Regions from separate parts of the Homo sapiens genome. Here all the other regions are linked to region 3. Evidence: fine-mapped expression QTL. A gene starts in region 3. Each other region holds a variant in brackets. All regions are shown on one strand. Distances are from middle to middle.

Evidence for each region. PIP is the estimated chance that this variant, and not a neighbour inherited with it, causes the effect.
Region 1: its variant is the best candidate, but not a certain one, in a credible set for the expression of FAM78B in tibial artery (GTEx, PIP 0.72).
Region 2: its variant is the best candidate, but not a certain one, in a credible set for the expression of FAM78B in whole blood (TOPMed, PIP 0.52).
Region 4: its variant is the best candidate, but not a certain one, in a credible set for the expression of FAM78B in blood mononuclear cells (TOPMed, PIP 0.69).

The regions. Positions count from the first base shown.
Region 1 is chr1:166,233,162-166,241,343 of GRCh38, reverse strand. The region is part of intron 1 of LOC112268276 (a long non-coding RNA gene); the gene reads right to left. Among named protein-coding and RNA genes, the nearest start is that of FAM78B, 70 kb to the right of the region's middle. The variant C/T (reference allele first, on the strand shown) is at 4,397.
Region 2 is chr1:166,137,505-166,145,686 of GRCh38, reverse strand. All of the region lies in intron 1 of FAM78B (family with sequence similarity 78 member B), which reads left to right. Among named protein-coding and RNA genes, the nearest start is that of MIR921, 13 kb to the left of the region's middle. RefSeq lists an enhancer at 7,576-7,745. The variant A/G (reference allele first, on the strand shown) is at 4,231.
Region 3 is chr1:166,162,528-166,170,709 of GRCh38, reverse strand. It overlaps FAM78B (family with sequence similarity 78 member B), which reads left to right and starts at 3,709. Exons shown (of 2, transcript NM_001017961.5): 1 at 3,709-4,724. The coding sequence starts at 4,462. It overlaps LOC112268276 (a long non-coding RNA gene), which reads right to left and starts at 4,833. Exons shown (of 3, transcript XR_002958633.2): 1 at 4,656-4,833. RefSeq lists enhancers at 455-534, 4,449-4,498, 4,599-4,768, 3,940-4,842 and silencers at 1,375-1,434, 3,469-3,958, 3,999-4,058.
Region 4 is chr1:166,066,626-166,074,807 of GRCh38, reverse strand. It overlaps FAM78B (family with sequence similarity 78 member B), which reads left to right. Exons shown (of 2, transcript NM_001017961.5): 2 at 4,045-5,509. The coding sequence ends at 4,567. Among named protein-coding and RNA genes, the nearest start is that of FAM78B-AS1, 10 kb to the left of the region's middle. RefSeq lists a silencer at 5,109-5,309. The variant A/G (reference allele first, on the strand shown) is at 5,203.

The DNA.
Region 1 (8,182 bases), 71 kb before region 3:
AAAACAGAGATATAAACCAATGGAACAGAACAGAGCCCTCAGAAATAATGCCACATATCTGTAACTATCTGATCTTTGACAAACCTGACAAAAACAAGAAATGGGGAAAGGATTCCCTATTTAATAAATGGTGCTGGGAAAACTGGCTAGCTACATGTAGAAAGCTGAAACTGGATCCCTTCTTTACACCTTATACAAAAATTAATTCAAGGTGGATTAAAGACTTAAATGTTACATCTAAAACCATAAAAACCCTAGAAGAAAACCTAGGCAATACCATTGAGGACATAGGCATGGGCAAGGACTTCATGTTTAAAACACCAAAAGCAATGGCAACAAAAGCCAAAATTGACAAATGGGATCTAATTAAACTAAAGAGCTTCTGCACAGCAAAAGAAACTACCATCAGAGTGAACAGGCAACCTACAGAATGGGAGAAAATTTTTGCAACCTACTCATCTGACAAAGGGCTAATATCCAGAATCTACAATGAACTCAAACAAATTTACAAGAAAAAAACAAAGAACCCCATCAAAAAGTGGGCGAAGGACATGAACAGACACTTCTCTAAAGAAGACATTTATGCAGCCAAAGGACACGTGAAAAAATGCTCATCATCAATGGCAATCAGAGAAATGCAAATCAAACCCACAATGAGATACCATCTCACACCAGTTAGAATGGCAATCATTAAAAAGTCAGGAAACCACAGGTGCTGGAGAGGATGTGGAGAAATGGGAACATTTTTACACTGTTGGTGTGACTGTAAACTAGTTCAACCATTGTGGAAGTCAGTGTGGCGATTCCTCAAGGATCTAGAACTAGAAATACCATTTGACCCAGCCATCCCATTGCTGAGTATATACCCAAAGGACTATAAATCATGCTGCTATAAAGACACATGCACACGTATGTTTATTGCGGCACTATTCACAATAGCAAAGACTTGGAACCAACCCAAATGTCCAACAATGATAGACTGGATAAATAAATGTGGCACATATACACCATGGAATACTATGCAGCCATAAAAAATGATGAGTTCATGTCCTTTGTAGGGACATGGATGAAATTGGAAATCATCATTCTCAGTAAACTATCGCAAGGACAAAAAACCAAACACCGCATGTTCTCACTCATAGATGGGAATTCAACAATGAGAACACATGGACACAGGAAGGGGAACATCACACTCTGGGGACTGTTGTGGGGTGGGAGGAGGGGGGAGGGATAGCATTAGGAGATATACCTAATGCTAAATGACGAGTTAATGGATGCAGCACACCAGCATGGCACATGTATACATATGTAACTAACCTGCACATTGTGCACATGTATCCTAAATCTTAAAGTATAATAATAAAAAAAAGTTAAAAAAAAAAAAAAGAAAATGTGGCTCATATACACCATGGAATACTGTGCAGCCATAAAAAATGATGAGTTCATGTCCTTTGTAGGGACATGGATGAAACTGGAAACCATCATTCTCAGCAAACTATCACAAGGACAAAAAACCAAACACCACATGTTCTCACTCATAGGTGGGAATTGAACAATGAGAACACATGGACACAGGAAGGGGAACATCACACACCAGGGACAGTTGTGGGGTGGGGGGAGGGGGGAGGGATAGCATTAGGAGATATACCTAATGCTAAATGACGAGTTAATGGGTGCAGCACACCAACATGGCACATGTATACATATGTAACAAACCTGCACGCTGTGCACATGTACCCTAAAACTTAAAGTATAATAATAATAAAATTTTAAAAAAAGCAAAAACAAAAAAAGAAGCAAATGTATATAAAGAACTCTTGAATCTCAACAATAAAAAAAAACTGCCCAATTAAAAATGGGCAGAAGACAAATAAACACTCATCAAAGATATATGGATGGAAAATAAGCATATAAAAAGATGCCCAACATTACACGTCATTAGGGAATTGCAAATTAAAACAACAATGAGGTATCACCTATTAGAATCACAAAATCTAAAACACTGACAACACCAAATACTGGTGAGGATATGGAACATCAGGAACTTTTATTGCTTGGTGGGAATGAAATATGGCACAGTTACATTGGAGACAATTAGTTTCTTACAAGGCTAAACATACATTTATCACACAATCCAGCAACCATGCTTCTTAGAATTTACCCAAGTTAAGTGGAAAACTTATGTCCATGCAAAAACCTGTGCAAATATTTATGTCAGCTTTATTTATAATGAACAAAACTTGGAAGTATCTAGGATGTCCTTCAGTAGGTGAATGGATAAACAAACTGTGGTATATCCAAGTGATAATTATTTGAGTCCTTAAAAGAAACTAGCTATCAAGTCTGAAAAGACATGAAGGAAACTTAAATGTATATCACTAAGTGAAAGGAGCCAATTTTAAAAGGCTATATACTGTATGATTCCAACCATGTAACTGTCTGAAAAATGCAAAACCACAAAGACAGTAAAAGGATCAGTAGTTGTCAGGGGTCTAGGGGGAAGGAGGGATGAATAGGGGACTTTTAGGGCAATTATTCTGTATGATGACAAAAATGGTTGGATACATTATCATACCTGTCAAAACCCATAGAAAGCACAATATCAAGAGTGAAACCTAATGTAAACTATGGATGTTGGGTGATAATAATGTGTCAATGCAGCTTTATTAATTGTAGTATATGCACCACTCATTGCAGGATGCTGATAGTGGGGAGGCTGCATATAAGTGGAGGTGGGAGATATATGACAACTCTCTGTACTTTCCACTGAATTTTTCTGTGAACCTAAAACTGCTCTAAAAAAATAAAGTTTATTTTTAAAAAATGGAAATTAGAGTTATAAAGTATAATAACTAAAATTTAAAATTCACTAATGGTTCTCAAAAGTAGATTTCAGCTGACTAAAAAAATCAGTAAACCTGAAGATAAGCCAATAGAGATTAAGAATATTACAGAATAGAAGGTTGGGGGCGAAGTACTTTAAAAAAAGGAACAGAACTTCAGAGAAAGGTGGGACATCAATGAGAACACCAGCATACCTGTACTGTAAGTACCAAAAGAAGAGGAAAGAAAGGAACGGAAAAAATATTCAAAAATGTAATAGCTGAAAATTCCCCAAATTTAATGTAAAACATTAATCTACACATCTAAGTTCAATGAACTTCAAGTAGAATTACACAAGGAGACCCACACTCAGACACATCATAGTTAAACTATTGAAAGAAAATAAATCTTGAAAGCTGCATGAGAAAAATGACTCATCACATAAAAGGGAATCCCAGGAAAATAACAACAGACATATCATCAGAAACAATGGAGGCCAGAAGGCAGTGAGGAGATATATTCAAAGTACTAAAAGAAAAAAGAACTGTCAAACAAGAATTCTACATCCAGCAAACTTACCTTTCAAAAATGAAAGTGAGGAGTAGAGTCGAGATGACTGACTAGACACAGTAGTACATGCCTCCACCATGGAGAGGAGCCAAAATAGTAAGTAGATACTCACAGTTCAAACAAGGCATCCAGGAGAGAATGTTCAGATTTTCCAGAGGAGAGACAGGAAGCACTAAAAGTAAGTAAAGAGAGGGTTTGAGGCACCTTGCCCATCTGGGAACTGACTGATAGCCAGAAGAGGCTCCTGAATGTGGGGAAACAGAGAGAAACCCCCAGGGCTGCTAAATGGGTTTTTATGATTTTGGCTATGGAAGAAACCCTCAACCTACTAGGACCTCAGGCCTGACACAAAGAGCCACCTAAAGATTGCAGAGATACTTCTCCAGAAAGGGAACCCCACACAGAATTCCACAGGCATTTGATCCTCGAGCCACTTCAGTTGGGAGCCATTCTGAGAGCCTAGACATGAGGGATCTGCAGGCATGGCTGCTGCCACTGCACTGCTTTAAGGCGAAAAGGGCAGGGGAGTCCAGCTGCTCCCACACACCTTTGAGAGGGTCTCTGCCACCCTGCTGTGGTCTGCTATTGAGACTGAGATGTGAGAAGACTGCACAACCTCACAGCTTCTTGCCCATGCTGCTGCTTGCCTGGGAGGGACCCTGTCCTCTCAGGGTACCAGGCTCAAGGCACCATTTTGAGACTTTAATGCTAAGCTGCACCTTTCCCTTTGGCCTGGGTCAGGATGATGTGGCTGCAACTGATGCCCAGCCAAGGAGGGACAGGGATACCAGGCTATCCTACATATATCTAGAACAATACCCACTGCCCTGCAATGGGCTGCTGTGAGACTGGGCTGTGAGTGGGTCACACTCTGCTCAGCACCTTGCCTGTGCTGTCTGCCTGGGAGGGGTCCCGCCTTCCCTGATGGTAGGCCCAAGGTGCCATTTTGAGAGTTTAACACTGGGCTGCACCCCATTCTTGGGCCAAATTTCAGTTAATGTGG[C/T]TGCACCTGCCACCCCATCAAGGAGGGATGGGAAAGCCAGGCTCTCCTATGCGTACCTAGGACAATACTCAACATCTTGCTATGAACTGCTGTGAAACTGAAACTCAAGTAGACCACACAGCTTCTTGCCCATGCTGCTCACCTGAGCAAGGTCTCTCCCTCTCTGGTCACAAGCCCATTGCTGGCACCATTTTGAGAGTTTGACAAGGCGCTGTGCCCAGCACTTAGGCTGAGTTTGAGGTGATGTGGCTACAGTAGCCACCCAGCTGGGGAAGAGACAGGGGAGACCAAGCTCTCCTAAGCACACTTAGGACAATACAGACTCCCCTGCTAGAGGTGTCTATGGGACTGTAGACTAACCCACTGAACTCATCCCAGCTTCCAGGAACACCAACAAAAACCACTTGGGTCCCAGTGGGTTGCTCCACCACTGCTACTGCCATCACCCACACAACATCAGCTGCTCAGGGGCCTGAGAGCAAACTCACACACCTGGCCCACCTCTCCCACCACTAGCTTCTAAGCAAAACACCTGAAGGCCCAAGAATCAGCCCTCCAAGACTCATTAACACTAGAAGCAGTGTAAGCTGCTCTGGGGCCTAAAAACAGGCACGCTCACCTTACTGCTGCCACCACGGGGGCCCAAACAAAGACTGGCTCAATTGGCATTCAAGTCCCCAGCTAAACTTCACAAAAACTCAACTAATAATTGTACCTTAAGACACCAAGGAAATGACAGAGACCACTAACCCTGCATACTTCCAGAGATGTCATACACAAAGATCACACTACAACAGGCACCCAAAATCAAAGCCAAAGTATCCTAATCAACAACATACATCCTCAAGAAAAAATTCTCCCCTACAAAAGCAATTTCAATAACTTGAGGGGGTTGGGCCCAAATTGTGGACTAGAAACAGCTCATGTGTGCTGCTTTCGTAGGGAGAAAGCATAAGGGCTAGGGAACACTGTCCCTGCAGGCCGATCATCTGAGAAATCATGTCAGGACCTGTCAAGGCAGCAGGGGCACATAGAGGACAGTGAGGGGTGAAGCTGGGCACCAGCCTGTCTGGGCTCAGCATGGAGCCAGGAGAACCTCTCCAACATGGGAAAGGGTTAGTAAGTGACAGCCCCCAGGGGGATTCACACCCTACACAGGGATTTGTGTAAGACTAGGAATAGGAGAATCCCCCTGGCCACTCTGCACCTCCCCACATTGTGCTTTAAGACTGAGGCAGAGAGTTACCCAGATGTTTTGCGGGGGCAACTCTGAAGTCCAACGGGATCATTAAAAGCCTTGGGCCCTGGAGCAGACCAGTACCAGTGCCATAGCCCCAATAGAGGCTGCAGTTGTGGTGCCTGGGAGCAGTAAGATTGTTCCACCACCCCCCTCCCCTTGCAAGATGGGGCTGGCAGCTTCTCACCCAGCAGTCTGGCCACTCCACCCACCCATACCACAGGTAGCCCAGGCAGGCAGTACCTGCTAGAGCTGCAGGCACAGTGGTATTGCTTCTGTGTGAACTCACCTGCAGAGTGCATCTTCCTGTTGTCCCTGGAAACTTGGAAACACCTGGACAGCAGGGTGGGCAACCCTGCCCAACTCTGCCTCTCATAGCCAGATAGGCTACACCTGCTAGAGCTTTCAGCCTAGCAGTCCTGCTTGTGCCTGAACTCTGCAGGCAGGTTCAACCCCATGTTTCCTGAGGAAGCACACAGACAGCATATTAGGACCAATTCAGCAAGGATACAGAGGGAGCCCCATGGACCAGAACACCCAACAAAAGCGTGGACATGGAGATAGTAATCAGAGGAGGCTCCTCCAAAATGCAGAAGTGGACTAGAATTGAAGCCGGTCAATCAAACCCACCTATACCATAATCAAACCCCAAAGGGCATCAAATTAGATAAAAACAAAAAAAAATCAAAAGGACTGGGACTTCAATGATTGAAGGACCATCAGCCCACACAGACAGGAAATAACCAGTGCAAGGACTCTGGAAACTCAAAAAGCCAGAGTGTCTTCTGACCTCCAAACAATTACACTAATTCTCCAGCAATGATTCTCAAGCTTGCTGAAGTGAAAAAACAGAATTCACAATATGCATCAGAAGGAAGATCAACATTCAGGAGAAAGTTGAAATCCAACCCAAGGATTGTAAGATATACAATAAAATAAAACAGGAGATGAAAGATGAAATGTCTGTTTTAAGAAAGAACCAAACTGAACTAATAGAACTGAAAAACTCACTTCAAATGCTAAGGGCCAAGACGGCCACATAGAAACAGCTGTGGTGTGGTACTCACAGAGAGGAGCAAAAGGGATGAGTGAATACAGAACCTTCAACTGAAATATCCAGGTACTCACAGTGGGACTGATCAGGAAAACAACTGGACCCACAGAAAATGGAGAAAAGCAGGGAAGGGCAACAGCCCACTCGGGAGTAACGTGGAGCCAAGGGAACCCCCACCCACAGCCAGGGGAATTGGTGAGTTAATGTGTGAACCCAGGAAACCATGCTTCTCCCACAGATCTTTGCAACCCTCAGATCAAGAGATCCCCTCATGAGCCCACACCACCAGGGCCTTGAGCCTGAGACAGAGCTGTGTGGAATCTCAGCAGAGCAGCTGCTCAGGCATGCAGAGACCCAGGAGCTTTACATACCCTGGCCCCGATATCCCCAGCAAGGTGGGAGGTCTGTATGTACATACCTCTAAAAAGGGGGCTGAATCCAGGGGGCCAAGCAGCATCCGTTTGCAGGCCCCACTTCCACTGCACCTCACAAGATGAGACTTACTAGCTTGGAATTCCAAGCAGCCACCGGCAACAGGGTGGATGGAGCCTGCCTGAGACAGGATGGAGCCCCCGGGGGGAGAAGTGGGCTGTGATTTTTGTTGTTTGGTTGACTCAGCCATTCCAGCCTGCAGGCTTTGGAGAGTCCAAGCAGTCCAGATGAGGAAGGGTCCCCCAAGCTCAGCACAGCTGCTTTGCCAGAATGTGTCCAGATTGCTTCTTTAAACGAGACCCCATCCATTCCTCCTCACTGGGTGGGACCTCCCAGCCGGGGCAGCCTCAAGCACCCCCACTCTCCCATATTCTATAGACAGAGCTCTGATCTCTCCCTAGGGGAGAGTGTGTGGTGGGAGGGCTGGGCCACCACCTTGGTTATTGGGACAACTCAGCAATTCCAGCCTATGGGCTTTGGAGAGTCCAAGCCAACAAGGGCAGAGCTGGTTCCGCAGCAAGGCATGGCTGTTTTGTCGAGATGTGGCCTGACTGATTCTTTAAATGGGACCTGGATCTTGCATTCTAATTTGATGATGCTATGATCTGAGACACTGTTTGTTATTATTTCAGTTCTTTTGCATTTGCTGAGGAGTGTTTTACTTCCAATTATGTCATCAGTTTTAGATTAAGTTCCATGTGGTGATGAGAAGAATGTATATTCTATTGGTTTTGGGTGAAGAGTTCTGTAGATATCTATCAGGTCCACTTGATCCAGAGCTGAATTCAGGTCCTAGATAACTTTGTTAATTTTCTGTCTCAATGATCTGTCTAATATTGTCAGAAGGGTGTTGAAGTCTCCCACTATTATTGTGTGGGAGTCTACATCTCTTTGAAGAGCCTCCAGCCACCCTCACCCATATTCCACAGCTAACAGCATTCTAATTTCTCCTTGGGATGGAGTGCCTGGGGGGAGGCCACCACCTTTACTGTTTGGGGCATCTCAGCTGGCTCAGCCTGTGGGCCTTGGAGAGCCCAAACTGATTGGGGACCAAAGGGATACA
Region 2 (8,182 bases), 25 kb after region 3:
CTTGAGATTGTCTTTGATAAGTTACAGATCCAAGACTAGATGTTTTGCTGGATTTTTGCTAAGATAATGCATTGTGGCCTGTCTTAGAGTCCTAAAGCAGCTGGAAGAGAATTTTGGAAAACATCTGACTCATCCCTTCCCCTCCTCCATGCAACTGAGAGGCAGGCAAATATCCTGTACCTTGCAGGCCCTTACATCCTCCTCTTTGCCCATCAAAACGCCCTCTTTCCCTTTGAAAGCATGGGCAAAGTGCTGCTGACATGATGGCACCTGGTGCCAACCTACAGGATGCCCTAATGCACCCTGGGAACGTAGGCTTCAGGCAGGGAAGTGAGACAGGTGGAAGCACACCCAACATGTAAAATCTTGCTTTGGTACCATGTTTAGGAGGCACCTTTGACTTGCAAAGATAAACTTGATGGAAGCAGCTTTGATGGAAGAGGTGGAAGTCTGAGGCAGGGATGGTGATTCCTGCAGTGCTTGGCCTCCTTAGTTTGTGGATATCAGAAGCTGAGAGGGGTTCAGCTTTTTTGTCCCAGGGCCAACCAGTTGGTACAATCTTTACCATGACTGGAATAGACCTGACCCAAGTTGAGGGCATTTCCCCCATCCTCCCACCTGTCTTCTTTGGTGTGGTTTGAGATTCAAGGAACTGGGGACTGATGTATCCTTTAAAATGATAGTCAAGTCTGGTAGGTGGTGGTGAGTCCTCCCAACCCTCACCCCATCTCTGTCTTTTCCAAAGAAACCCCAAACTTCTCCCTTCCATGGACAGGAAATCAGAGGAGTGGGTTGCCTTTTTATGGAAAGATTGATGGGTTCACAGCAAAACCCCTGGGTGAGGTGCCATGGTAAAGAACAGAAAGGGGGTTTAAGTGGCAGGTCTCTCCTTCTTTTGTGGGCTCTATACCTTTGATGTGCTTTTCCCCTCTTGCAGCTGAAGATTTTTTGCCTTGAGGAAAGTTAGTTTACACCTTGTTGCTGGAGAAAATAGCTGAGGTTTGAGAGATAAACAGCCACCCACTCCCTGTCTGTCAAGAGCTAGTACAGTTTAAGATGAATGGGGACCTCACTCTGCCCCCCTTTCCGCCCACCCTGTTACTCTCTGATCCTTCCTGCTCCATCATGAGGACAACAACCAACCTCTTTCTCCCCATCCCTGTCTCCCACCTTTGGACAGAGACAGATCAGAGTTGAGCTAATCCTTTCAAAAATATTTAATGTTCATATGCCTTCCTTGCATAGAAGCAGTTTAAGGGTTCCTGTGATTCTGGATTTAAATCTGTCTCTTTCATTTCCTACAAATGTATTGCCATCTGTTGATTTCATTCCTGTGACACCCACATCAAGATCATTCATAAGGAAAATCGGGCCCATTTCTAGACCACCCCCCCACCACCACTCCCCAGCCTTACTCACAGCTCTCCCCAGTCCAAATGCCTGAGCAGGGATCTGTGAAAACGCTAACACACACACAACAGACTGACAGGAAATTTAGAGTTTGGCGTTCATCTCCTAAATAATTGAAGTGGGCACCCACCAAGCCCTTCATCCCTGGGAACCCTGGTCACTGGAACCACATTAATTTGGGCCCAGGAGTTCTCTGGTGCCTTTTGTCAGCTATTTTGGATGCGTCATCATTACTTACGCCTTAATAAAACCACCCTCCTTTTTTATTGTCATCAGATGTGTTAGCAGTTTGTATCTCATCTATCTGTCCTTCAGCTCCTAAGGACATTCTGGAGGAGGGACATTCCCTCCCCATCCTGCCCCCAACCCTCACACACACTGTGGTTCATAGGGTTTGGGTAAAGACTAAAAGAGTTGCTCCATGCGAAGTGTTTGGCACAGGGGCTCACGTGGTTAAGGGCTCAATGTATTGTCAGTTATGGTGTTTTAGTATATGCAGTTCTGTTGTTTAACCTCTTGATCTTTCTCAGATCTCTGCTTCCCTCTCCACCCCACTTCCTTAGAGCAACCCTCACTGCCTCTCACCTTCATTACTGCCATGGCCTCCCATCAGGACCCTCTTCCTCCTGGTTCCACATGCTTCCCCTCCACCACCTGTCCTCTGCACCACAGCCCGAGTAGGCAACTCAGAATAGAAAGCTGATAATATCACCCTCTCCTATTTAAAAGCCTCCTAAGGTTCCCCATTCCCTTCAAGATGAAATTTACACGCCTTAGCAAGTAATGCCAAGCCTCTGTTGGCCTGACCTTTCCTAGATAGGGAACCAGAAACATCTCTGAAACATCTCTGGCCTGTCTTCATCTGCCAGTCTCTCCTTGGCACTAGGGCAGAGCTACACCACATGGCATGTAGCTCCCAGCCGTGATACCTCTAGACTTTTGAATATGCTGTTCCCCAGCCAGGCTTACCCTCTCCTCTCCTAGAAGACACCTGTGCATCTCCCCAGAGCCCTCCCTGGCACCCTTCCCCCAGTCTGAATTAGGCCTCTTCCCTGCCACTGTCCCAGCCTCTACTATATATTAATAGTTAATACATTTGCAAATATTTTATGTTTTAACTCATTTAATCCTCACAACAACCCTATATTGGGTACTGTCATTATTATGGCTACTTAAAGATGAGGAAATTGAGACATAGAGAAATTACCTAATTTGCCCAACATCTCACAGCTCCTAAGAGCTGAGATTTGAACCCAAATGATCTGGCTCCAGAGTCTACACTCATAACCACTGGGCTCTATGGCCTCTTACACTACTGTACCATTGACCAAACCATGGCCCTCTCTGGACTGAGCTCCCTGAACTAAGAAACCATGTGCTGCTCATGTTTGCACCCTGTGCCCTGACACAGGGCAAGAGCACAATTCCTTCTTAATTAACCCTTCAACCCATTCATCCTTCTAGGCCTGTGGTATTCAGTAGATTTAAGACTAGCCCACTTTTTACGACCCATTACCCGTACATCATTTCATTTAAAAAGTGCCTAGAGGGCCTTTTATGTGCTACAGTGGTAAGGGTAAGAGACTTAGAAGACAAGGTTCCACCCTTGAGGAACTTATAATTTGGTTGAAGAGATAAAGATTATACCCAAACCTGAAGTAATGAAAATGATTCCTCAAATCACAAACGAAACCAGTTTCTTTGTTTTGTGGTCAATCCTCAAATAAAAATAGTCTTCCTCTTTTCCCACTTAGACCTCAAGATCCTTGAGGGGAGGAATCCCATTGTGCACCATACATATGTCAATGCCCAGTGCTCAGTAAGTGCTGGTGCTAATGCACCACTGACTCTGTCTGTGGACTTCAGGCTTCTGCTGCTGCCCCGTGTCCTAGCCTCAGCTGTGCAGTCTTCCCAGGCCTGGGTGGTAGCTGTCACCCAGAAGACTTAGGGCACAGGGAGAGTCTGGGAGAGTCTAGGTTGGAAGTAGATTTTTGGGTGCAGAGTCTCAAGCTGCAATAGACCCTAGTGGTTCAAGACACTAGAACCTCCTTTAAGTGCAGTCTAACCCTCCACTCCCCAATAATGGTTTTCCATTGCATAATGTCCCCTAGTGACCTGCCTGGGTATAGCTCTCCACAAGGCAGCTGTCCCTTCCATGCAGACTGTCCCAAGTCAGAGCAGGGCTGGTCACCATGCCACTCACCTTCACAGCCAGTCTGATCATTGAGGAGCTGTGCTCAGGGCAAGGACACCTGGGACCTCTCACAGGTGGCATGCCCTTCCAAGACCAGGAGAGAACACCACAACTTTGCAGGACCAGCATCTCTCAGCCTGCCTCCTCCCTTTCTCCATATCAATATGATATGGATGAGTACTCATCCAGCATTGGATGATATGGATGAATGGTCATCCATCCCAGAGCACTGTCCCTACTCCAGTTCCAGGGCACTCTTAGTCTGTTCTTGGCACATACAGCTTTGCATCTGTCAGTGTCCATGCAAAAGCCAACACAAGCTGTGATGGACTGTGCATTGGGTAGCCACCAGAGGTAACTGCCACTTATCTATCAGTCAGCCTTTGACAGGCCTCACATAGATACGTACCTCCCATCACCTCCAAGCTGGAATACACTTTACTCATCTGTAAAATGGGTATGAACATGCCTCCTTTGCAGAGCTTTTTTGAAGATTCTGCATTTACTAGTTTAACAACTGTTCAGTACCTATTATGGGCCTAGCTACCGGCACATAGTAAACACTCAGTTACAATAGCTTTAAGAAAATCTGTCTTAGACAAAGGAGTTTCAAAACTATGTGAAGA[A/G]TATACAAGAAGTAGTAGTCCAAACTGTTTTTTCAGTTGTTTAATGATCTCTATGATAAAGATGTTCAGGGAGAGGAATATCTTGCGTGATAACTGGAGTAAAACCCACTTAGATTTCTATGTCCCCAAACCTCTGGTGTGGTCAGGGTTGGCACCTGCCCTCTCAACCATTTGTCTCACTGTACATGCATCTTGTCTATGTCTTCCACTAGAGACCATGAGGGCAGAGATCAGACCTATGTACGTTGCACATTGCTGTCCCCAGTACCTAGCACAGCACCTTGCCCCAGTACGCACTTCATATATATTTCCTGGACTACGGCAGGTGAGCCCTTTGTGAGGGTTCCACCTGCCCACTGGCCTGGCCTTTAATGTCAGGGGAGCATTTCTGATATATTAATGCCCCTCTAATTGTGCTGCATTCGTTTACATAGGCAGTGCAGCAGCCTGGCTTTGGTGTTTAAAGACCGGATTGCAGTCAAAGCTCTGCTGTTTGCTGGCTATGAACTCCAAGTAAGTTGCCAGGTTCCTCTGAGCACTAATGATAATATTACCTGCCTCACAGGGTTGTTTTGAGAGCAGCTTCTGCTGCTGCCCCATGCCCCAGAATTATGGAAAACCATTTTGTAAACTTCAAGTCACTTCCTCTCCATAGTACAGATCAATGGTAGACCAGTGATCAGGGAGGATACAAATCATACCCCCAAAAAAGGCTTCTTTGTTGTATTTTGCCTCAAGTGTTTTCTTAGAGAACCTCAACAAACCACACTATTTTCTAGTAATCAGCCACTTATCCCACCATTTGCAGTAAGGAAAACTGAGGCACGCCTTGATGGCTTATTCAGCATCAGCAGCCTCACAAAAGACAGAAGTCTCCTTTGGATTAGCTTTATCATCTTTCCCTTAAGCAGAGATGATGGTGCCTTTCTCGCTGCTCTGGCTCAGTTAAGAAGTCAAGTCTGATTTATTGGTCATCCTAACTATCGTTTCCTGAAGGCCCGAAGCCCTGTAATGCTGTTGTCTGGCTTCCCAGATTTATGACCATGGTTTCTGGCCCCCAACAATATCTGGAGTTCGGTTTACATATTCACTTCCACCATCCAATCCAAATCCTCCCAGGCAGCAATCAAGCTGGGGCTGATTCCTCATCCATTTGTGGGCTCACTTTTTCTGGCAAGTCAGCCTTCATTCTCCAGGACGCTTAGAAGCCGCATGTTGGCGGTGGATTGTGCTACGGGAAAGAGTGAATGTGTAGCCTGCACATTTGAAGCCTTGCTGGGGTAGAGAGCAACGCTACTGCTCCTGGAATGTCCAGGCCACTGTTAGAAAGGCCATCTTATTCCTTAGAAGAGTCTAGCCCTGCTGCAGGCTTCAGAAACGTGTGCTCTAAGCTCGTTCCTGCTCATTTGAAGCAGTCTTCTGAAAAGGTCTGCAGAAACCTGCCTTTACCCTCTCCCTCATCCTGCGTGGCCTTTGTCACATCCTTCCTCCAAGGTTCCTCTGGTGGTGGTAGTAGGGAGGCTGCCACCTGGCTTTGCATGTGGGAAAGCCCAGCCTCTTCCCTCCAACCTCACAGCAGGACAGCCAAACTTGGATTTTTTCATGAGGAAGCAACTCTTATGAGCTCTCTGGTTCAGCTCTCTGGTTAAAAGACCATACTGTGCTGTTTCTGGGGCAGCACAGACCTGGTTGATCGTGTCCACAGGAAGAACAGCCTTTGGGATTCATTAGTCTGGTTAAGACCAGCCCTGCAGCCTCCTCTGCCAGCTATAGAACTATGTGTTAGAGTTGGTGCTGAAGCCAGTCACAAACCCATCCCAGATGCGTGTGGTCTTGTTGATGTTCAAATGCCACCTCCTCCTCCAGGAAGACTTCACCACCTCCCCAAGGCTGCCTTATGGGCTCCTTCTCTGTTCCCTCTCGACTCTGCCCCTCTATCACTATGGCCATTTTATAGAATTTTAATTATTGTCTCGGGTGTCTCCACTAGACTGTAAGTATCAAGTGTGTAGAGACTTTTGTTTCAACTCTGTATCCCCAAAATTCAGCATAGTTCATAGCACATACAGTACTCTCAATGCCTGTTGAATGAATAAAGAGTCTGCTTGCATGTAAAACTACAGTGGTTTGGTCTTGGAGACACTTGTTTTGGAATTCTTCTACTGATAGGGACAGCATCAAGATGATGGGAAATGTATTGGTCTGGGATTTGTTTTGCCTACAAAGTTTCTTATGTTGGCTCATCTCCAACTAGATAAAACCCTGAGTCTAGGCTTCCCCTTCTAACAAAGCTGCTATACCTTTATGGACCTCCATTTTCCTGTCTGTAAAATGAGAGTGTGGGCTAGCTAGAAAAATTTCTGGTGTCCCCCTTGCTGCTTTGTAATTCTGGAGTACGTTCGGAGAACACCCCAATGTGACAAAGGATCTGGAAATTCTTCATAAAATATTCAGGGAGGGAGACAACTCAGGGAACATGACAACTGTCTGGAATTATTTGAGGGGTTGTCATGTAGAAGATGAAAAGGATTAGATTATCTTGAAAGGCCCCACAGGTTATAAATAAGACCAATTATTAATTCATTCAACAAATATTTGAGTACCTGCCATGTGCAAGGCACTATTCTAAGCAATAATGATGCAGTAATGAATACAACAGACAAAAATCTTGTTGCCTTTATGGAGTTGACATTCTAGTGAACAGAAACAATTCAAAAACAAACACAATGGAGAGGAGCTTCTTGGACCCTCAAAACGAGCTGCCTGTGAACTATTGAGCTCTTTGTGTTCAGGAATACGTTTAGTACTTAGAAATCTGCTTCCAGTGGCTGCTTAGACTAAATGACCTTGTTAGGTTTTTTTAGCCCAGCAATCCCATGAATCTAAGGCTAGCGAAGATGTGTGATCTCTTTATTCTAACACCACTAAGCCAAATCATGACCTCCTCTCAATGGTAACTGTCACTCTAAAAAGAGAGATAAGGTAGATGCAGTGGGCTGTTCTTATGAAAAGGCACCTAAAAAATAGTACTTTAGAAACATGCATTGTGGTGGGGGTCTGGGTGGAGGGGTTGCTTTTTCTTGAGATCCCTGTGATATTGAGGATGAAGAAAGAGAAACACAGGGGGTGGGCAACTTCCTTGAAGGACCAGAGAGAGTGAGTCATGAGGAAGAGAAGGAGGAGACAGAGAACAGGAGAGTTGGGGATGAAGCCTTTGATGAGGGGAGTGAGGAGGGGCAGAAGTAGGAGACAGACATGAGGAAACCACCAACTGAAGTCCCAGAAACCCAGCCTCCGTCCCCTCTAGGTCCTACTGCCGTCATCCTCTTTCTGTAAAGGTGAGAGTCTAGGTGCAGTGTCCCAGGTTCCAAACACAAGTTCATACTCATTGACTAGTGGGATGCCCACTGTGAGAGCAGGAAGGAGGGCTAGAGAGATCTAAGAGGGCAGAAGCCCTGCCCTGCCAGTATTTTTTGCCTCCAGCCACCTGCTCTGTTCTGAGACATGCCTGAGACCAGCTGCCTACAGGGGGACCAGGGTCTGTTTCTGCTGTTAACCTTGGTTCCCTCCTGCATTCCTGCATGTGGGGATGTAGACAGGAAGCCTGCAGGTATGGAGCAATTGAAGCAGAGTCTAGATAGAGCCCAGACTCCTTACTTCCCATAGTACTATTCTGCATTTTGTAGTGCTGCTTATGCTTTTCAGTGTTTCCACATCTATTTACTAATAACATCATAGTACAACAGCAAGAACATGGCCTCAGAACTCAAAGTTCTGGAATTCTAATATTTTATTTGATTGTCAGTATTTCTGTGAGATAGATAAAATAGGAATTATTTCCTCTGATCTGCAGGTGAGGAAACTCAGTCACAGGGAGCACATTTATCCATACTTGTGGAGCTATAGTATAACTAGTATTAGGACAAGGATAGCCAACATAGTTAAAAAAAAA
Region 3 (8,182 bases):
AAAGGGCATCACTTAACATCAAGGAGCCACATTAAGAAAAGAGTGGGGGGACAAAGAGGTACAGTGCAGAAAGAATTAGAATAAAAACATATGCTTGCTGCAGGTATTGAGACAGAGCTTATAGGGAAGCTTATAGGGAATGTCAAGGGTCCATGTCTGTGAATCATGTTACATTTTATTGGCATTCTACTAAATATGATGTATGGGAAATGTTGTATTGGATTTTTAAGAATACTTTTAGTCATTCAAATGTTTATTGAGCAGCACCTAGGTGCCACGCACTAGGCTGGGCAACAGGGCACGATGGTGCATTCTCTTGAGGAGTGAACAGCTTATTGGGAGAGACAAGTGTGAGCAAGGAACTGTGAAACAGCTTTAAAGGTGTTAATAGAAGCAAGGGACTTACCATGAGGAGACAGAAAGAGAAACTTAGAAGAGCAGCACAGAGAAACTGTTGCAAATTCTGGGGATTTCATTTGAGCTACAGATAGCCCTGCATTGGCATTTGCAGACTGAATATGCATGAATGATAAAAACCCCCAGTGAGTAATCCAAAAGGTCCCTGTCATGAGGTAATTTGCTGAGACACAAATTTGAATGGGGCTGCCAGGAGGCCAGAGTGTACTTGCCAGCCACTCAGCTAGTGAATGACCACTCCTAACACTGGCATTTGTGTCCCAGTACCACTTAGCTCTCCTTACTTTCTCATCGACATCCGCACAATAATTCTCATACTGTGATCAATTTTTTCTTCACAGAGTCAGGGAAATAGGGCGTTAATAAGGTAAAGATATAAGGTAATGAAGTAAGAAGTTTATTTTAATGGCAAAATTTATTTAAGTAGCTTTAGAAATTACTTTGGCCCCATATTCATAGAACCATTAAGAGTCTAAAAAGATTCTTTACATTTTTCAGCTACACTTTACCGTACTTTATGGTGGAAATTATATGCCATGATGACATTCATGATTTTGGAGACTCACCAAGGTCATGGATGAACCCTCTGAGAATGTCAAGGGTCCAAGTCCATGAATAATGTTACATTTTATTGGCTTTACTAAATATAACAAAATCTTATTTTAAGTTTGAAAAATAAGATATTCTTCCTTATGTGATTTCCCTATATTTTGGGAAAGGCTGCCATTCCCCTCCCCGTTTATGAAGGTTTAACATGTGTCACCAGAAGACAAAGGAGTTATTTATCCACAAAACTGCAGCCTGACAAGCAACTCAAATTAAGAAACATAACTACATTCCCCAATGAAATGCTTTCCTTTTGGTCTATTGCCTGGAACCTAATAACCACTGAAACTCAAACTCTGACCCCACCCTGCCCCCCAAATACCTCCAAGAACCTCGAACTTAACATGACATCACCCACAGTCCCAAGCTGCTTCCCCTTCTATCACCTTGTTCAGTTACCAAGTAAATACATTTACCTCCTAAGTGATTCTTAAATGCAAATGCAGCCAGGCCTCTCCAGCCCCACAGCACTGCCCCAAGCTAGCCGAGGGTCAAAGTATCTGTCATCACAATATTCTGAAACGCTGCCTCCTCTATTCTCTATATGGATGCAGAGTAATTTTTCTCAAAATGCATGGCTTGCCTTCATTGGCTTCCACTGAAGTTTAAGATAAGGTCCTATCAAGAGAAGACACTGGGCCCTACTAGAGGGTGAAGGGTAGGAGGAGGCAGAGGATAAAAAAAAAATACCTATTGGGTACTATCCTCATTACCAGGGTGATAAAATAATCTGTCCAACAAACCCCTATGACATGCAATTTACCTATATAACAAACCTGCACCTGTACCTCTGAACCTAAAAGTTAAAAAAATTATTCACCAAACCCAGTGATCAAGGTTAATAACACCAGTAAAAAGTCATATTGCTATCATGTACCCCTGACATAATGCAATGAGAAGGCACTTCATCTTCATGGTATTCATCCCCCAAATCCAAAACCCTGGTCTAATCATGAGGAAACATCAGATAAATGCAAATGAGGAACAATTCTACAGAATATCTGACCAGTCCTCTTTAAAAATGTCAAGGTCATGAAAAACAGAGAAAGACTGAGAAGCTGTCACAGATTGAGAAGAATAAGGAGATGTAATGACTAAATGCAACATCATATCTTGGATTAGATTCTAGAGAAAAAAAGACATTAGTGGAAAAACTAGTAAAATCAAAATAAAGTCTGTAGTCTTAATTTTAAAAAGAAAAAAGATATGGTCTATCAACAACCAATTGATTCTTGGACAGTGATTCTGATGCCCATGGTCGACACATAACACCTTGAGAAATGCCTTGACTGTGAGTTGTTTCTCCCCCTCAGTACAGGATGAGTTCTTTCATATCTCTATGCATTTTGCATTTGCCAAATGCTGGTCCTGTACTACTCATTCACCTTTCTCTTTTCAGTGAGACTCTACAGTCTGTCAGTATTCAATTTAAATGTCACTACTTGAGCAAAGTCACACGTAAATCTCTCAGTGGCCAGAGAGCCACTGAGTGGCTCTCTGACCACTGAGGGATTTACATGTGGCCAGAGATTTACATGTCTGGCCTTCCACGGCACTGGATACACAACCCCACTAAAGCAGGTGTCACAGTTTACTATAATAACTTGTTAACAGGTTTATTTTCTCCAGTGATCCATGTGCTCTTTTTCAACTTTGAATCCCTAGTACCTAGCACTATGTTTGGCTCCTGCCAGGCAGGCAGTCAGCCTTTGCTGAATGAAAGGACCAGTGATTGAGGTCTGTGGCTACACGGTAAAATGAGAGAGACGAGTCATCAAAGGGAAAAACTGCTTTTTTGTTAACTATAAAGTGAACCAAGGTGTCAGAACAGTTAAAACAAGGATGAAGAGTGCTTTTAGATCTCAATCAATTTTTAAATTACTCGTCACACCTGTCCTAGCTAAAGACTAACTCTAGCACCTCCTGCGGCCTGTTAGTCAGTATTTCACACTTGGGCAGCAGATCCAGCAAATGTTCAATGATCGCAGAAGAAATACTTAGAAGCTATTGGCTTTGAAAATAAAAATGTAAGAAGATGCCTAGTAAAAGCATCTGCTAAATATTCTTCCTGTTTGGCACATTAGACTGCAGTATCAGACACATGACCGTGGTCATACTGTACACAATGCCCAATGTCTGCCAAAACTCTGGCATATGAGAGACTTAGTGCTGGAGTACGGAGGGATTCTTCCGGTATCCCCACTACACACAGTGGTGGAAAGAAGAGCTTCCAGAACAAACCCAGTCAGGCAAAGAGGCAAATACACTGCATTTAGTAACGCTGCTGGAGCCCGCCCTTCACCCTTTCTGAAGGTAGGATACTAAAAGGGCTCAAGCCTAAATCTAATCCAACAAGCTATATTCTGAATAACGACCAATCTCTGATAAAGCTGTTCCCCTAACCCTTCTGCTGCCCGAAACACTCACTCTACAGCCCCTACTGGGCTACCGGGTTCCCCACTGGACTCTGGACAGCGCCGCGCCCTGCTCGGCCTCACCCACCCGGTGGCGCTTGGGCCCGCCCTAGTCCCCCACCCCCACCCCAGGGCACCACCTACCAGGGCCCCGCCCCGCCTCAGCCCCACGTGCGGGGCCCCACCCCGGCGCTAGCGGCCCTTTAAACACCCCCACCCTTACACATTACCCCCCCCCCACCCGGACGGCAGCCGAATAGGGACAAAACTCATGGCGTACAGCCAGTTTCCTCCGCGGAGCACGTCCTGTGCTGCTCCAGCCGTTGGGGCTCTCCACCCCGGGCCACAGCCTCCTGGCGCCCCCCGGGCCGAGGCAGCCGGGCCGAGGAGTGTCGGTGTGGTCCGGCTACGGGGCGGGGCCGGCGGGAGCTCCGGTCGCCGCCGCCGCCGCTGCTGCCTCCGCCTGCCTCTTGGGCCGCCCGCTCGCCCGCCGCTGGGTGCGCTGCACGCGGGGGGCAGCCGTGGTGCAGAGGTTCATGCAGCGGCGGCGGCGGCGGCGGCTGCTGCTGCTGCCGCCGCGGAGGCAGACAGACCGGGCGCTGCCACCGCCGCCCTCCCCCGGCTCCATGCCGCCGCCGCTGCCGCCTCCTCCTCTCCGGCGAGGGGCGGGGGGCTCCGGCCCGGGGTGGGCACCATTCCTCGCAGCGCCGCTCCCCTCCCTGCCCTCCGCCCGGGCGCTGGAGCCGGCGAGGGCACCCGCCGCCTCCTAGGAGTGCACCCTCCGCGCGCCCTGCCGGAGCGAGGGGGCGGGCGTGGGCGGACGTCGGGGCAGCGGGGACCCCGCGCGGCTGCAAGAGGAGGGGGCTTCCCCAAGGATGCCCGGCGGCTCCCCGCTCCTAGGTGCGAGCTGAGTCTGACCGGGAGCGAGCGGCGCGTCGCCATGCCGGCGTGACGGGCGCCCCCGGCTGCCCGCGCGGGCCCCCGCGCTGCCCCACGCCGCGCCGTGCCGGCACCGGGCTGCAGGATGGGCTGTATCCAAAGCATCACCTGCAAGGCGCGGATCCGGCGCGAGAACATCGTGGTGTACGATGTGTGCGCCACCATCGACCAGTGCCCCACGCGCATCGAGGAGACCTCGCCCATCGTCCTGCGCTACAAGACCCCCTACTTCAAAGCCTCCGCCCGCGTGGTCATGCCCCCCATCCCCCGCCACGAGACCTGGGTGGTGGGCTGGATTCAGGCGTGCAATCAGATGGAGTTCTTCAACACCTACAGCGACCTGGGCATGTAAGCGACTCGCCGCGCGGCACGGGAGCGGACTCTGGGCCCCCAGCTCTGCTTGCCACCTTGACCCCCCTCCCCAGCTCCTTCCTACTGCTGTCCCCATCGTCTTTCTAAACCTTCCTCCCGCCTCCTCTCCCACCTCCCTCCTCCCTACGCTTTTGTTTCAGTGACAGGGCGGGTGTAGGGAGGCTCCTTGCGAAGGCATTTTCTCGTGGTTTGCTTCTGACTTCCCAGAAACGCGAGGAGAAAGGTGCGGGGCGGGAAGAACGCGACAAGGAGGGTTCGAGAGGCGGAGGTGGGGATGGCTGGCGAGTGCCTGGCGAGTTTCAGGGCGCCGTCTGTGCTTTGTGGGGCTCCCCGGGAAGAGTTTGGGGGAAACCATAGAGGAGTGGAGTGGAGTGCCGGGGGCGCATGGGCTGTGCCGCGCGTCCTTTGGAGAAACCGGAGCGGGCTTGGAAGAGCAGGTCCCGGGCATCCGAGCGGGAGTTGGTAGTTCTGTCCTTGCCCTCGCGACTGTTGAAGTTTCGAACCCTTGTCCCCCGGGCCAGGGAGCCCGGAGGCGTTTCCGTCTGGAACCACAAGCCGGACACAGTTGCCTCTCTGTTTCCGCGCCCCCTGGACCAGTTCTGGTGGGGAGCTGGAAGGCACCGAGTGCGTCCCGGCCAAGAAGGGCGGATAGCCTTGTGCGAGCAGCGTTCGGCTGGCGCGGCGCGGGGTGTTTCTTATGCTAAAGGAAAGGATGGATCTCTTGTCTGTCTAGGGTCCTTACTTTTTAAAACTTTCCTAATTGCGGCACTGGAAGGGATTCCCCTGGCGCCCACCGCCGAATTCTATCGGCGAGCTGGGAGCTCTCCAACTTTCAGCAGCGCCGGTTGGTGCGCGCCGGGCTTGGCTGCTGCGGTGAAGACCAAGGATCGCCGCGGCTCCTCAACCGCCAGGGGCCGCAGGCTACGGGCGGTCGCGTCCGGGACTTTTATATTTACCAAATTTTCATAACTCCGCACCCGCCTCCTTTCAGAACTAGACTCTGAGCAGGTGGCAACGACAATAGCTAAAAGGTTTAGGGCCTGCCTTCTACCTGCTGTTACAATGTAGGTCTAGAACACCCTAATTAGCCAGTCTGCAGCCTACAGGGAAACCCTTTTTCTGGAAATTCAACCTCATTTCACTTATTAATCTAAAACTCTAGAGCTCCCAAGGTTCGTCTATTTAATATGGATATGGGGTGGGGGAGTTCCCATTTTAAAAGGTCAAACCATCTTTTTAGCAGCAGTTTGCAGGCTTTTTATTGCACTCTGAGAGCATGTCAGTTAACACTAGTCATAGGCGCTAAAAGAAATTTGACAGGTCGTTGTTTTCCTTTTTTCCTCCCAAAGATTTTGCACTTTTCTCTTTAAGCACAAAAGCTTAATCCTTGAGAAAACTCAATTCCTAGTGAAGAAATGTGAGGCCCAGTTTCCAATATGCCTCAGCACACTGTATTCTTCCAGAGAAGACAGCTAGATGTGAGAAATGGGGGATATTTTATTTGGGGCGAATCATGCCATTTAAAAACTGACATACCCTCAAAAGAATGATTATATGTGAACACATGTGTCTCTTAAAACTGCTTTTTAAAATAAATCCATTGTTTCCAGCCAAGTCAGAGAAAGCCACAGGCAGGGCAAGAGCCCTTCCTCTCATTTCCCTGGCCTCACCCTGATGGCAGTGGGTTGCTGGAGGACAGCAAGTGCTCCCCACAGCAGCCTGGGGCCCCTGGTAGAGGAAGCCAGGAGTGACTGTGCAGAAGCAGCCTCACTTTTCCCAAGACTGCACAGCGGAACTCTCTGTTGCCTCAAATCTCTTATGAATAAGTAAAAGCAAATATATAAATACAGAATTATTTCCGTAAAACTTACTTTACCTTAGGAGAAGTCAAGTTGAGATATAAACAGACATGGTAGTTGAACTTCCTGGAATCTATAGGGAAGGTATGTCCTCACTGGAACCAACTTTAATGGATATGAATCAGTGACAGGATTCCTGACCCTTCCCCACTGAATCCTTGCATTTGGGATTTGGAAAGTGGTTTTGTTTTTAAACTGCCACTTTTGATATTTTAAGATTCTTGGTTTTCATGTAGATGTAGGAGAGCAAAAATAGACCCCCAATAAATCATAAAGCATATTATTATAGATTTGTGTCCACAGTCTACCTGTTTCTTCATGGTTGCAATAATTGCTATGTGTTAAAGGCCACTTTGGAGCCCAAATTTGAATGAACCAATTTCCACAAGATATTTATGCCTGGAAAATTTTGCTAGTGTAAACTTTTTAATGGGAATTCATATTGCATGAAAGTTGCTGCAGTCTATTAGTTATTATGTCTACTTTAGCCAATATCTGGATTGTAAAAAATAGCATGGAGTGATTTTTCACCTCTGTGCAGTGTTCTGTCACATGAACCACAATATGGTGAAAGGGTTTGGATTAGAAAACTGCCTTTTCAATATTTTGAAAAGGATTGTGCCAGAGGAAATCCACAACATAAAATGGCAAGAAACTCCTGTTTACAGGATTGAAAGAAAGCCTGAGGTTTTGTGGTTTAAATTGTAAACTTTTCCAAGAAGGGGTAGGCTTCTAAAAGAACATTTGAAATAGTTGATGGCTATGATGGCCAGAGCTTAATTTGAACTTGAACTCATTTCCATGGCACTTCCTCGAATGATTCTATAGAAACCAGGCTGGTGAAGAGTTGTGGCACCTATTTATTTCTCATTTGGCCCTGGTGAATCTTGCTAGTGCAGCCTTGAACAGACTGCTGCAAGTCTTCATCCCTCGGGGAGGAAGGGCTCCTGACTCTCTCAATCAACCTGTCAATATACAAACATTTACCAAATGCTTCTGCTGTGCAGGCAGCAGCACCAAAGAAAAAGGAATATGCAGGCAGTTTTCACTGCTTCTCATTATAAGACGACAAATGCAGAGAAAAGCAGCGCTCTTTGGTGGTGTGGAAGAAATGCCTGAGAGCGCTGGCGGGCCAAGCAGGGTGTTCTAGAGGTGAATGGACTCAAGGTGAACTCTGAGGTATGGGTAATATTCAGGTAGGCAAGGAGGAGGGACTAATTCCAAAGGGGAAGACCAGCAAAAATATGGAGGTAGGAAAATAGAAGGTGTTTTAAGGGGGCATAAGTGGGCCAGAGTGGAGTGTTCAAGAAGGAGAACAGTAGGAGATGAGGTTTGAAAGGTAGCTTGGGGTCTGTTGGGTGGGCCCAGAATAACATAGTCTGGAAAAGGAAAAGATTAAAGTCAGATCTTGACCAGACAGAGGATGTCAGGAAGCTCTTCCTATCTTCTTTATACCTCTTGAGTATGCAGAAGCTTTCCAACAGAAGTGGAAGACGTTTATAATGGAACAGTTTTGAATGCTGGAGTACAACGCTGAAGAGGTTTCCTGAGTAAGATTTGAGCAAGGAATGGGGC
Region 4 (8,182 bases), 96 kb after region 3:
AGTCACTAAAATACATTCATATTCACTACTTCATTCACTTTCATTTAAATGTGCCTCCTCCTTTTAAGGATAAGCAACTTTCCGTGCAAGGCATGATACTATTCTAATAATAGATTCTAAATGAATAGATGTTAGATTTTTTTTAAAGGTGAGTAAATATATAAAGTATAAGACTGTAATAAAACACTTTGTCGTATGCAAGTTCTACCAAGCTCCAGGAATATAGTCATGAAAATAATTCAAATAAAGTATTTACTCTTTTAATAAATAGTTATTAAGTTTTATGTGCCAGCCATGTGCAAGACACTAATGATTCAAAAATAAGTCATAATTCCAAGGCTCAAGAAACCTGTAATCTAATGAGAAAGACATACAGATCGTTATAATATAATCTGACACCTGTAGTTGTAGATATATCTATGAGTGCATGGAAGAGAAGGCTTCCTGGAGGAGGTGATACATATGGTGATTCTCAGAGGATGAGTAGTAGTTCGATACAGTGGAAATTGAATAGGAGGAGGAACAGCATAGGCAGAGGGCACAGCAGTGGAGGTGAGAAAGGCATGGTGTGTGGAGATGGGGAGGCCAGATGATGGAGAGCCATGTATGTCCTGTTAAGGTACTTGAATTTTACCCTGTGGGTGATGCCAACGATGTCCATATAGAAAAGCCTTGGAAGGATTTTATGTATAGAAAGAGCATGATCAGATTTGCATGTTTGAACACTTGGACAACCTAAAAGATGGATTTGAGAGAGACCAGAGTTGGATGCAGAGAGACAAATTATGCGCCATTCCAGTAGACCAGGTAAGAGATGCTGAGGGCTTGGATTAAGTGAAGGCAGTAAGAGTTGGGTGGGGAAAAGGAGATAAATTCAAGTATCACTTATGGGGCAAAATTCACAGGATGCAGTGATACAGTCACTGTGGCAGCCTAGGGGAGGGTGTGGAAAGAGCCAAAGATGGCCCTTACTTCTGACCTTGAAGATTGGGTGAGCAGTGGGCCACCCCTTGCAGAGAGACAGGGGAAGACGGCTTGGTTTATGGTGGAAATGATGAGTTCAGTTTGAGCCATATGGAGTTTGAAATGCCTCTGGCATTCCATTCAAAGTAATCCCCTTAAATGGTCATTGAGTGACTCAAATAGTGCTACTGTTCTTGGAACTTTTCAGAGACTTCTCGAAAAACCATTACCAAAGACATTTTATCAGCTACATAAACTAGTCATGCATTTTATAGACACAACTCTCCTTTTGGAAAAAAAAAAAAAAAGAGAGAAAGAGAAAGGAAGGGAGCGAGAGATAGAGAGAGGGAAGAAGGGAAGGTCACTGCCTTGGGGTGTACATTAGTATCTATTTTTCATAAAGGAAAAATTTGATATTTTTCAGATAGCAACTCCCTATTCACTAGACTTAAATCGTAATGAATTTTGGCTGTTTCCAAAATCAAACCATCCCTTAATGATGTAGTCCTAATTCCCTAGGGCTATGGAAGAGAACATGCCTCTGACCTGAGGAATTCCCAAAAGCACAGTTGCAGAAGTAACAACAGTGTGGATGGAACTAAAGTGTAACCTCCAATGTCACTATTCCCAATGACTACATGTGGCCAGATGTGTTTGTTCTGATGTGATGATTAAGAAGCCTGTTGTATTTCTCTGTTCCAGAAACTCCTCCAAGAAAAGGGTATTTTCCTTCCCTCCTGAGATAGCCACAAGAGTGTGTCTTTATTGTATTATCTCTGTTTTTTGTTGTTTTGTTGTTGTTGTTTTTCAAAAAACCTAGGACCAAACTAAGTTTTATGATTTGTCTTACAAGGCTGACTTGCAGACCCTGGGCCCAAGTCTCTGCTCACACAGCTCTGGGCAGGAAGATGGGAGGCAAAAATATGAGAACTATAAAGACTCTATAGACAAAGCAAGATAGCCTGAAAAGGACTGTGTTGTAACAGAATAAAAAGTACATCCACTCAAAACCAAATTCCCCAGGCAATACGCCACAGTAAGCCCTGTGTGTAGCGGGGGAGAGCAAGAACAGTCTGCCACTGCTCGGAATACCTGCCCTCCAATTCTAAGAAGGAACTCAAAGGCCAGCAGGGACTGGTCACAGCCAAAGTGTAAAACAAGATTTAGGCAACACAGGAAATAGATGTATTGTGACTGAAGAATTGTCTTAGCCCTTTGCTTGGGGGCATGAAACCGACTCCAGTATGGTTATTTCATGAACCCAATGAGCAGATTGGATCTCTGCACAACCTCTGACCCACTCAAAGAACATGTACTCCCTTTTGTACAGTAAGAAATGGCATAGAATTACCTGGGAGCTACTACCCCCCAGCTGCAAAAGCATATGTAGCAAAATGAGCTCTCTCTGACTTTCTGCATCAGGTCAATTCCTTACTTAGTGTCTGCCAACCATGATACACTGCAGCTATTCCCAGCAGTTACCAAGGGCATGACAAGAAAAAAGGCTCTTGCAGCTGTGGGGTCACCTCCTCCCCAGGCAGCCAAGCCCTCCCTTCACTTCAGGCTGGGGCTGACTGGCCTAGGAGGTACTGTAGGGGGTCAGTAGGAGGCAGTGGTTAGTGTCTCCATGTCCCCATGTGATAGTAAGGGTGCTGAGATGTTAATCAGCACTAGCTTGACAATGCAATTCCCTTTAAGACAACTTGTATAAAACCCTGCAGGATCTTCTGTCACCTCATAGGAGGAAGAACTTTATGTCAAAGAAGACCACTGCCTCTTAGCTGATGAATAAAGCAGTCTCATCTCTTTAATTATTAAATTCTAGTGCATTATTACCAAGCATCATCCCTGGTACCCGGAGCGAAAATATGGAGCATGCATCAACACTCTGCTGACTAGACTTCTGCCCTTACTGGGGTCCAGTCCAGTTCTCCATGACTGACTGGTCTTGGAGCTGCTAACTCATTAGACAGCCTGAGTCCTCTCCATTCTAACTCCCTCCAGCGCTGTGTAAGGGTACTTTGGGAGGCAGTATGATACAGTGGCCAAAACCAGGGACTTTGAAGTCAGACAACTCTCAGCTTCACCTCTTGGAATCTTTAGGACCTTTGTCATGTACCTTAACATCTTTAAGCCTTCATCCCCTTGTGTGTAAAATGGAAATAAAAATGTATTTATCTTGTGGAGTATTTTGAATACTGACTGAGATAATGTACTTAGCACAATGGTTGTAATAGAGTAACACTCAATAAGTATCAGCAATTATTATTAGCAACAGTCTACAGCAGGGGGTAGAGACATTGGTTCCTCCTCCTCCTCCTCCTGTACAAGGTCAGAGACAGCCAGGAGGAGTAGGTAGGTGCCAGAATGGCAAGTTTGCCAAACTAAGCTGTGAGGCTTCCAGGCTGGACTGGAAGGCAATGGGAGAGCGGTGCATTAGAGTGTATGCCAGCCTGTAGAACAACTTTCACATTCAGATGGTTTCCAGAAGATGACCATGATTTTCTCATGTTATGATTTTCTATGCCTAAGCGATGAATTGGCTGATGCCTAGAATTTAAACAACCCTCTTTGTTAAGTAGAAATTCTATTACTATGATTTCCTAAGAAATTAATATAACCTTTAACTTTGCCTCCTTTTGCCCTTCTTTCCACCAGATACTGCCTTCCAAGTACATCGAATTTCAACCATCATTTCTTCCCAAAAAGCAAACCTTATTCACATTCATATTTCCAAGAAAGTGGTTCTTGTAATGGAATTCCTCTAAACTGCTGATTACCATCATCTAACTAGTTGATGTCTCTTTGTGGTCTCACAACTGCCTTTTTGAGCTTCCTGTTCTCAATTGGGTCAGCCATGGTTGTATTTAACTTGTTTTGGCATGGCTTTGTTATTTTTATTTTGGTTTGTTCTCATTTAATCCTGAAACAGCACAGCATAGAACTTTTTGCCCTGAATTCCCCCTGTGAACTTCCCATTTTGCCCAAGTTGACTATGTTAGTAAGCAGTGAGCACCTCTCCAGCTTTTGAAAAATTCATTCAGCCTCTTCTTTTCTTGTGCATGTCTTCTGCTTTGCCAGGTCAAGCTGGGAACTGCCTGACTTGAGGGAAGGGAGAGTAAAAGCCATCAGTGACTCAGATGGGGTGAGCTACCCTTGGTACGGGAACACCACAGAAACTGTGACCCTGGTTGGCCCCACCAACAAGATCTCCAGGTTCTCCGTCAGCATGAATGACAACTTCTACCCCAGTGTGACATGGGCAGTGCCTGTGAGTGACAGCAATGTGCCACTGCTCACAAGAATCAAGAGAGACCAAAGTTTCACGACCTGGCTGGTGGCCATGAACACCACCACAAAGGAGAAGATCATTCTGCAGACCATCAAGTGGAGGATGAGGGTGGACATTGAAGTGGACCCTCTTCAGCTCTTGGGGCAGCGGGCCCGGCTGGTGGGCAGGACTCAGCAGGAGCAGCCCCGGATCCTGAGCCGGATGGAACCCATCCCCCCTAATGCACTAGTGAAACCCAATGCCAATGATGCCCAGGTCCTCATGTGGAGGCCCAAGCGGGGGCCACCTCTGGTTGTGATCCCTCCTAAGTAGAAGCAGACTGGCCTGACTGTGTGTGGATCACACGCCTCTGAGACATGCAGTGAGGGTGCCAGGGGTGGCAGGAGCCAAACAGAGTTTCTGAGCCAAAGCAGACCTCTCGGTTTGCCAGCCTTTGCAGCCACTTTTGAAGAGTAGGGCTGCTCCTTGGGTGGTAGAACCATAATCCTTAGGAAAAATCCCTTCCTCTTAGGAATAAAGAAATCACTGATTTGACAGACTTGCTGTGATTACCATGCAAGTAGCCATATTTTGGAGCTGACCAGGATGATTCTTTTATCTGAACTATTGACCATTTCTTTCCTGTGAGATGCAGGGGATGGAAACGAAATTAAACAGTGCCTGTGGCAAATGCTGCTTCCCAGCCAATTAGAAGTAGGAGTGAAAACATCCACACCAGGTGGTCGTAAGACAGACTCCTGCTGTCTGACTGGAGGGTGCTGGGGAAATGGGTGGTGAAAGAATGGGTGATGGGGAGAGGAAAGAATAAGGTTTTATGACACATTAATACTTCTGCATTTATTAGTTGATAATCAGATCAACACACTCAATGGAATGAATGCTTAGAAAACTAGACAAATACTGATATTTGCTCCTTTCTGAGGGAGAAAGCCTCCTTGGAACTGTCC[A/G]AGGTGCTGATGTGAACTAACGGAAACACTTCATTAGTTCCGTCTACCCACCTCTTTCCAAAAAGATTGCTTATTCAGAGTATTTTTAATCACAGTATTTGGCTTTGTAATTCCCACATTCTGCAATAGTTATGATATTTGGGGCCCTGTCCATGTTTTAGTGAAATCCTAACTAACTTGATTTTGTTTACAGCTGCTTATTCTGTTCCCATGATTAGCCCTAAATTTATATTTAAAAAGTTATGAGCCATGAATCCATGTAAGGTTCAAGAACATTTCAGCAAATAAGAACAGCATTTTCATTCTGTTTCTTTTGAGTTTCTGAATGATCTGAACATATGGAATGGACACGTGTATGCATAGACACACACACACACATGCACACATGCACACATGATGCATATAGCATAATTACTAGCATATTTGCCACCAGTGCCTACATATCTACCTGTAGCCTTTCTATGTACATACGCTGTATATTTTTATATATATTTATTTTAGCTCTATTTCACAGAAGCTCAAACTTGAACATTTGTGAGAAACTACTTCCTAAGGCTTAACTTAACTTTAGAGCTCTTCAAAGAAAATCTAAGCTACTCATGTTAAGCAAGCCTGTATTGCTAAGATTTAACCAGTAAAGATGAGAGGCCAGGTTTCCTTTAGTCAGGCCAATATACAACTTCTTTTTGAGGGTTTCCAGTCTTTAAGTGAGGATTTTTGCAGTTCTAGCTTGAATCACCCTTCCTCCCCCACCTCAAAAAAAGAGCTTTTCCCTTTATTCTCAATAATTCAACCATATATATGGTTGTATATATATTTGCTTGTTCACCACCCCCTTCCATGCAAACTAATTATAAAACTTTCACATTGTCATTGTGGATTTAAGAAGTAGACACTGCTAGCTTAATTTCAGAGGGAGAAATTTGAAGTTCAGAGCAGTTTTACAATCTCATGGTTGGCTCCAAAGAGCTGTCTTCTACTAGAGTTTGTGGATAGAGAATAAAAAGCAGCAGGGTTTATTACTTTTATTAAAAATTCAATTTAGTCTAATTTATTTCAGATTCTAGTCCCAGGGGATGGTACTTACTTACATAAGAGTGCTAAGAGATCTGCTCCAAATTATGTAGTGTTAACTTCACACCCCAACCATCAACTACTCTGTTATAGATTAGTTATTGATGGCAAGTTATTTATAACAACACATTAATAATACATCAGTGGCTCACAGAGGACCTGGAGACATTCATTTAGAAATAATTCAGCTGTTATGTTTGGCATTCTCTGTCCCTTCCCATGTTTCCTTGTTTTATTTGGGAAAGGCAGTCCCAGAGAGCTCCATGGCTAAAGTACAAAGCAGCTTATTTTCCATGCTGACACCACAGGCAGCACTCTCTCCCCCAGACTGAATTAGACTCCACCCCTATGGGATCCTGGGGAGTGGATACTGACCCTAGAATCTAATCCATGTGGCCCCACTTTAAGAAAACCTGGTATTTTAAACTCCAAAGTTGTAACAAACAACAGATTAATTAGAATTTACATTACAAAATGCTATACAAGATTTATGTTTGCAAATTCCCCTAGTGCATTAAAATAAGATATGACTTACACAACTATATTTACAAATAACTTTTTCAGAAGCTTATCTATATATCTAAAGCAAGGTGTAGCATACTTAGCTAGGCTTGTTTCCCATGAAAAATCACAGTTTTTCAGAGTTTTAAAAGAAATTACCCCCACAGCAGTTTTCTGGGAAGTTGTATAATGACAAAATGAAAAAAATGGGAAAGTGCTTATGAAAGTTAAAAGCACTGTATACATTGTGATTATTGTTATTGGTACCATTGTGAACTCTACAGTTGGGTGTCTCAGCTCTGAAGTCAGCCTGGCAGAATGCTCTATTGCCCTTTAGCCAATTATTTTCAAGTTACTGTTGTTTTACAAGGAAATGACCCCTTTTCTTCCTGTGATTTGTGGATCATTATCTTTCAGCTTAGTCAGGATATTGCCAAATGAAAGTCTCTTGTACAAGAGAGAATTAACCTTGAAATCTCTGTTGAGGTCACCTCTGCCCTCCCATCCAGCCCTCCTTCCCCTCAAAATGCCTGGGCCTGACGCCAGATGCCATCAGTTTAAAGGGGCTCATTTAGTGCCTTGATTAAGTTTTAGTTGGGTGGTCTCAGGACTTAGACACACACACAACACATGGCTTCTTGGTGGCACTAGAGTTTTGAATTACGTAGGAAAAAGCATTTCATCAGGCCTTAAGTTTTCTTAATCAGGTCCTTTGAGATCTTTTAGTCCATGATCCCGAAGGAATTTGAGGCCTCGTTAAATTAGGTCATCTATTCAGAATGGTATACCTAGCCAGCTGAAGAGCCAAGAGAAGGCCCCATCTCCCAAATTTCATCTCACAACATGGTAACACTTAGCTAGAACTCACAGCCTCTTGTCTCCAACCAAAACATTATCATCATCCCTAATCCATTCACCCACAAACCAATGAGTCTAAAACTAGAGACAATTGGATCCGTCCTTTAAAGAACAAGAGGAAATCCTTGTTACTATTATGTAAAAGAAAATTTGAATGTTCCAGATTCCCTTTATCTGTGACAGCTGTTTTGAGGTTGAACCCTTAATATGGGCCCTTCGCTGCATGCAGTTTACATTCCTGGGTCATTGCTGTAGCTCACATACCTAGCCAACTGAAGAGCCAAGCACATCTCCCGAATCTCATCTCACATGAGATGGGGGCACATGAGAGAGTTGGAGACTAGTCCCCTACCCACCTCCCATTCTGTGGACCTTTTTACAACTCCCTGTTTCCTGGTGCTGGAATGATAATCTCATAGGTCAAAAGCATGTACTAAGCAGCAATTCTGATCAGTAAAATAAAAGAACTATGATTTATAGAGTATTTTTACAAAAGCCTTCCACATGCATTTTCTCATCCCCAGTCTTACGAGTGTAATACTGATGA